Linked DNA regions of Homo sapiens. The protein of the gene in region 1 purifies or fractionates together with the protein of each later gene. This does not show direct contact. Each region holds a gene or a part of one and is shown on either strand. Other genes may lie near its edges.

What was found. The genes of interacting proteins can lie anywhere in the genome.
Region 2: the proteins of AASDHPPT (region 1) and EHD4 fractionate together in Homo sapiens (co-fractionation; one large-scale study listed by BioGRID). This does not show direct contact.

What each region holds. Positions count from the first base shown.
Region 1 is NC_000011.10:106,080,662-106,084,161, forward strand, and holds part of AASDHPPT (L-aminoadipate-semialdehyde dehydrogenase-phosphopantetheinyl transferase), read left to right. Parts: intron 1-3,500. UniProt on the Homo sapiens protein: Catalyzes the post-translational modification of target proteins by phosphopantetheine.
Region 2 is NC_000015.10:41,962,558-41,966,057, forward strand, and holds part of EHD4 (EH domain-containing protein 4), read right to left. Parts: exon of another isoform or gene 3,431-3,500; intron 1-3,430. UniProt on the Homo sapiens protein: ATP- and membrane-binding protein that probably controls membrane reorganization/tubulation upon ATP hydrolysis. Plays a role in early endosomal transport.

The sequences.
Region 1 (3,500 bases):
TACTGCTATTTTTAAAGAAAATAAGTAACAGGCTAAGAAGAAAGCTATTAATAAAAGAACCCACATCTTCCTAATTTCATAGTAAAACTATCTAATCTCCATACTGCCTGCACCATATGTGGTTTGAATATGTGGCTCTCTCAGTCTGTAAGGCTTGTATTAATTTTATCTCTCACTCCCATTTCTGCATAGAGAACTCCTATTTACTTGTTAGATTTCACCTTAACCTTACTTTAGGGAAGCTTTGTGAGCCTTCAATCTAAGCTAGGTTCTTTTGTTGTAGGTTCTCATAAAATATATTTTCCTTATTCCAGTAATGTATCTCAGTTGATTATTCATCAGGATGATTGATTATCTTTTCCTGATACTTAAAAGCTGTGTGAGAGCAAGAACCATGTTAGCCACATCAGAGTTTGATCACTATCACATCTCTTAGTACCTTGCCTAGCATGTAATAGTAAAATATTTGTCAAATGAATGAATAAACACTGTGCTGTTAGAGTATAGGCTTCAGTGTGGTTGTGAATCTCTTCTCCCTTTTGCTTTTATTGTCCTTACCTTGCATTTTCCTACTAGCTACTCTTTCTCTTACCTGCTAATAAACCTTTCCAGTACAACTCTATTCTCAGGTTTGTTCAGAACAAGGCCCTACTAGTGATTTTGGAAACCTTATAACAGATTGTTGATCTGATTCCCTGGATAAGATTCCAGGAATTTTGTTTACCTCCTGAAACTGTATGCTACATTTTGTATGATATGCACATGTGCATTTTTCTTGGGAAAGGATCTGGTATTCAACAGGGACATAGGTGGCTTACTCTAAAAAAATTGCTGCTATAGAGGATTCTTAGCATGGGAATTAGCCCATATATTCTTGTAGCTTTCTGCTGTCATTACAGGAACTTTTTCTAAAATCAGAAATGGAAAGGCCATTGTTTTTTAGAATGCAGTCAGCACAACTACCTGGTAATAATTGGCCCAGTGGGTTGGTATCTGCTTGGAAATGATACTTCTGAGAAACAGATTTTGTTACCAGTTAACTTGATGGGCAGTGTTGGCTATGGTCAATGCTAGATAAACAAGTAATTAATAACTGAAGCTTTTAATAAATGATGGTGTTCTCACTCATAGATGGGAATTGAACAATGAGAACACATGGACACAGGAAGGGGAACATCACACTCTGGGGACTGTTGTGGGTGGGGGAAGGGGGGAGGGATAGCATTAGGAGATACACCTAATGCTAAATGATGAGTTAATGGGTGCAGCACACCAGCATGGCACATGTATACATATGTAACTAACCTGCACATTGTGCACATGTACCCTAGAACTTAAAGTATAATAATAATAATAATAAAAAAGAAAAATAAATGATGGAAAGACAATTGAGCAAAAATTTAAGATTTAGTTTTCCTGTTAATTGTGTTATTAGACCTCCCCCCACCAGTTTTTTTTAGTTGATCTTACTTGACTAATCACAATGTCTAGGCCTTTTCCTTTTCTTTATTTTGTTGTGAAAAAGCTGTTGCTATGTCCAGTAACACAGAAAGGAAGAGAGATTTTCCAATTGTCACTAGTGTTGTTACCATGCTACTGATTCCTGAAGCATCAATGGACACAGCATGATTTCTTAATGAAGATGGGAAGTAGACACTGATTTGCTTCATTGGAGATTCTTTGAATTGCTCTACTTATTGTAGTAAGTGAGGAGATTGAGCAAGGGATTTTTCCTAAGAGTCTTGCTAAATGATGCTAGGCAAAACTTAGGAGAGCAGCAAGGAAAGTACTCTGTTTTGTACTAGGCATTGTTACTAGATTGCCAACTCTAAAGACAGAGTTGGCTTTTGGGGGTTATCATTAGTGCATTGAAAGAGTCAATTCCATTACTCTGTCTTGTCCTATAGGTAAGAATCCACTAGGAACTCAGAGAGTCTTTTTCTTTCATGGTGCATTAACCATTTCTGCTGAGTGCAGCTCATTTCCCTCCCTCTACCTGTTCTCCCAACTGTTGCTGTGGACGTGCAGGAGAGAACATACCTAGTATATAGCCTACCATATGCCAGGACGGTACATTCTTACTCTTAGGAAGAATGGTGTTTTCCTGGTCTTCATCTTAATTTATTACCCTCTTTTGGAAAATTTTGGTTGGTTTTCCCTTTGTTTTCTAATTTTTTCTACCATTAAAAGTGTTTGAAGTGATAAGCATAAAGGGTAACTTTTGAATTGTTTAGTTTTGTGACCATATTTACAAAGTAAGGCAAAATAAAATAGACAAAATACATAAAAATTATGATTGAAATTTGGGAAAGGACCAGAATTTTCCCCCTATGGTTTTACATGTTCGTCTTTACATTTTTAAAATAAACTTTGCTGGACTTTTTTTTTTAAATGCACTTGGGATTTAAAACCTGTAAGTAGTTTTAGAAACTCACACATCACTTTGTACTCTGAATTCCTTACTGGAAAACCAAGTCTCCACCCTCAAGGAGTTTTCCTCCTTCCCAGTTACAGGTCGGTCTTTTTCCTTTGTCAGTAGGATTTGATTGTGTAACTAGTATTTATTGAGCAATTCCTACAAGTGTGTGACACTATATTAGATGCCTAATAGGTATTATTTCATCTTTGTAAGACTAGTGCGTAAGTACTACTGTTATTTTATATAAAAGGTTAAGACATTTGTCCAAGTTGACTTAGCTAAAAAGTAAAACTTCATATATTTAACCACTGCTCTCTACAGTATATGGCCTCTCAGTATGAGATTTTATTGATTCCTATTAAAAGAATTTGCAGATACCAAAATATGAAAAATTCTGTGAAACTGGGTTACATACATTTAAAGTTGTTATGGAAGAACTAATGACTAGGAATATGAAAAATATAGTAAGGGTCTTGCCTTACCAGTTTCAAAAACTTGTGTTAGTCATTGTAAACTAAAAAGAGTATGGTACTAGCGAAAGAATAGACAACTGGAAGAGTTAATCTTAGAGCCCAGGATATATACATATTTCAATTCAGTGGATAAAAGATTATTTATTAAATGGTGCTGGTAGAATTGGTTAGTCATGTGGATGTAACACATACTATATACACCAATTTGGAGGAATTAGAAATTTAAAAATAAAAAAGTTTAAAATTTTAGGACAAAATATAGTTGACTATGATGTCGAGTTGCAGTAAATCTTTTTATGAATTCTTTTCAAACGAGACAGAGTTCAGAATTTATCAAAGAATGGATATTTAAATTTAAAAAAATTATATTCCAAAAATATAACCAAATACAAAAGATAAATAATAGAATAAGGAAAATTCTTATAACAAATTTGGTAAGGTGTCAATATCCATAATATATAAAGAGCTTCTATGAAGTGATTAGAAAATATTAATAGGCACGTTACAGAAGAACAAATTCAAGCAGTCAGTAAGCTATTACCTTAATGATTAGAGTAATGCAAATTAAAGTAACAGTGAGGTGCCCATCAGATTTGCAGAAAATTGGA
Region 2 (3,500 bases), on another chromosome or scaffold:
CACAACAATATAATTGAGACAGATTTTACTTCCAGGTGGGTTAAAAAGTTAAATATTTAAAAAGTAATCCTATTTTAAAAAGAGCGCCCGGCCAGCCGCCCCGTCCGGGAGGGAGGCGGGGGGCAGCCCCCACCCGGCCGCCGCCCCGTCTGGGAGGTGGGGGGCGCCTCTGCCCAGCCACCCTGTCTGGGAAGTGAGGAGCCCCTCTGCCCGGCCGCCACCCTGTCTGGGAGGTGTACCCAACAGCTCATTGAGAACGGGCCATGATGAGGATGGCGGTTTTGTCGAATAGAAAAGGGGGAAATGTGGGGAAAAGAAAGAGAGATCAGATTGTTACTGTGTCTGTGTAGAAAGAAGTAGACATAGGAGACTGCATTTTGTTCTGTACTAAGAAAAATTCTTCTGCCTTGGGATGCTGTTAATCTATGACTTTACCCCCAACCCCGTGCTCTCTGAAACATGTGCTGTGTCCACTCAGGGTTAAATGGATTAAGGGCAGTGCAAGATGTGCTTTGTTAAACAGATGCCTGAAGGCAGCATACTCCTTAAGAGTCATCACCACTCCCTAATCTCAAGTACCCAGGGACACAAACACTGCGGAAGGCCGCAGGGTCCTCTGCCTAGGAAAACCAGAGACCCTTGTTCACATGTTTATCTGCTGACCTTCCCTCCACTATTGTCCTATGACCCTGCCAAATCCCCCCCTCGGAGAAACACCCAAGAATGATCAATAAATACTAAAAAAAAAAAAAAAAAAGAGGCAGGGCACGGTGGCTCACGCCTGTAATCCCAGCCCTTTGGGAGGCCGAGACAGGCAGATCACTTGAGGTCAGGTGTTCGAGACCAGCCTGGTTAACATGGCAAAACCTTGTCTCTACTAAAAAATACAAAAATTAGCCAGGCATGGTGGCCCATGCCTGTAATCCCAGCTACTTGGGAGGTTGAGGCACAAGAACCGCTTGAACTGGAAGGTGGAGGTTGCAGTGAGCCGAGAACGTGCTACTGCACTCCAGTGTGGGTGGACAGAGTGAGAGTCTGTTTCAAAAAAAAAAAAAAAAAGAATATGAGTGAACATTTCCTGAGTCTTAAGATAAACAAGGATTTTCTAACCAAAAAATAAAAGATATTATAAAAAAGGAAAAATTGTTAGATTTGATCACAAATATTAAATATATCTGCATGGAAAAACTATTACAAAAATTACAAGGCAAATTTCAAACTGGAAAAACACTTTTACAACTGTGACAAAGGATTGATATCTGTTACTGAGAAAAACATTTACATTTATTTATAAGAACAAGACCAGGGCCAGGCTCGGTGGCTCATGCCTATAATCCCAGCATTTTGGGAGGCCGAGGCAGGTGGATCATGAAGTCAGGAGATCGAGACCATCCTGGCTAATACAGTGAAACCCCGTCTCTTCTAAAAATGCAAAAAATTAGCCGGGAGTGGTGGTGGGCGCCTGTAGTCCCAGCTACTCCAGAGGCTGAGGCAGGAGAATGGCGTGAACCTGGGAGGCAGAGCTTGCAGTGAGCTGAGATCGCGCCACTGCACTCCAGCCTGGGTGACAGAGTGAGACTCCATCTCAAAAAAAAAAAAAAAAAAAAAAAAAGGACAAGACCAACACTTCAAATGAAAATTGGACAAAGTTCACAGACAATTCAGACAATTCACAAAGTAATATGGAAGACAACTATATTTTATAAGTTCAACGTCACTAGTAAGAAATAAACAAATTAAAATAAGTCTGTTCTGGCTGAGTGCCCCATGGCTCACGCCTATAATCCCAGCACTTTGGACTTTGGGAGGCCAAGGCGTGAGGATCGCTTGAGCTCAGGAGTTTGAGACCAGCCTAGACAGCACAGCGAGATCCCAACTCTACAAAAAATGAATAAATTGGCTGGGTGTGGTGGTGCAATGTACCTGTAGTCCCAGCTACTCCAGAGGCTGAGGTGGGAGGATTGCTTGAGCCCAGGAGTTTGAGGCTGCAGTGAGCTATGATGGCATCACTGTACTCCAGCCTGGGCAACAGAGCAAGACCCTATCTAAAACACTTTTTTTTCCTATCAAATTAATTTTAATTAGTTTTACTGGCAGTTTGGTGAATTACTGATCCTCATATTTCTGGTGGGAGTCTAATTTGGAATAACTGTCCTAAAAAAGAAAGATAGATACATAGATTTAGGAATATATATAAGCCTGAAAAAAAAAAAAAATATATATATATATTTTGAGACAAGGCCTCACTCAGTTGCCCAGACTGGAGTTCAGTGGTGCAATCTCAGCTTACTGCAGCCTCGACCACCTGGGCTCAAGTGATCCTCCCACCTCAGCCTCCCAGGTAACTGGGACTACAGGCATGCACCACCATGTCCGGCTAATTTTTGTATTTTTTTTTAGAGATGGGGCTCACCATGTTGCCCAGGCTGATCTTGAACTCCTGGAGTCAAGTGATTTGTCCACCTTGGCCTCCCAAAGTGCTGGGATTACAGGTGTGAGCTGCTGCGCCCAGCCTATTATCTATATTTTTTGAGGCACTAATTTATGCTTAGGCTATTCTAAGAAAAAAACTAGAAATACAAAGATTTATGGCCAAAAATGTTCAGTTCATTGCAACATTATGTATAACAGCATAAAAACAGAAACAACCTAAATGTCCAACCTGTACTATAGATTATGATGTAGTCATTGAAGTTATTTTTGAAGACTATATAATGACATAAGAAAATGCTCATCGTATCATATTAAGCAAAAAAGAACCCCATTTATTAAATTATATTTACACAATCCTCAGTTTTGTAAGCATGAATTCTATGTCTTCATCTAAGTCACTGAGAGAAATGTGAACAGATGGGGTTTGGAACGGATGGAAGGTTCAGCAAAGTCAGCCTCCCTTTTCTGGGTTGAGGCTAGCCCTCTTCCATTCCTCCATTAACTGAACCTTCATCTGGCAATGGTTCCCAAATGTTTCCTAGGGGAGGGCACATAAGAATTACTGTGAGAGATGGTTTAGAAAAACAAAAACAGATTTTGGAGCCTGACCCACAGAGATTTCGACTCAGGAGGTCTGAGGTGGGGCCCTGGAATCCGTGTCAAAAGGCCTCCAAGTGATTCTGATGCACAGCCACGTGCAGAAGGAACCACGGCCTTCTGGTTCGAGGTTTTGAAAAGGACATTGAACACCTTTTGTAAGTCAGCTTCTGAATGTGAGTTAGGGAAGATAATGTCAGGATGGAAAAAGCCTTCCCCCTCCTACATTTCTCCAAATACTCTGTTGCTGCTTGTCAGGTGGATGATGTGACAACTGGCCCAGCTGCTGGCCTGCAGCGCTTCCCTGCTCGGACTGCAGCTGCCAGCGCTCCCCTGCCCACCCCCCGCCCCACCTACTCACCTCCTGCCTACCCCCACCACCCCACCCAGCCCCGCCTACCCTGCAGCTCCTTGCCCTGCTCTTCAGGACTTTTGCTCCAAGTCTTGCCTCCTCTTTGTCTTCTGAGATG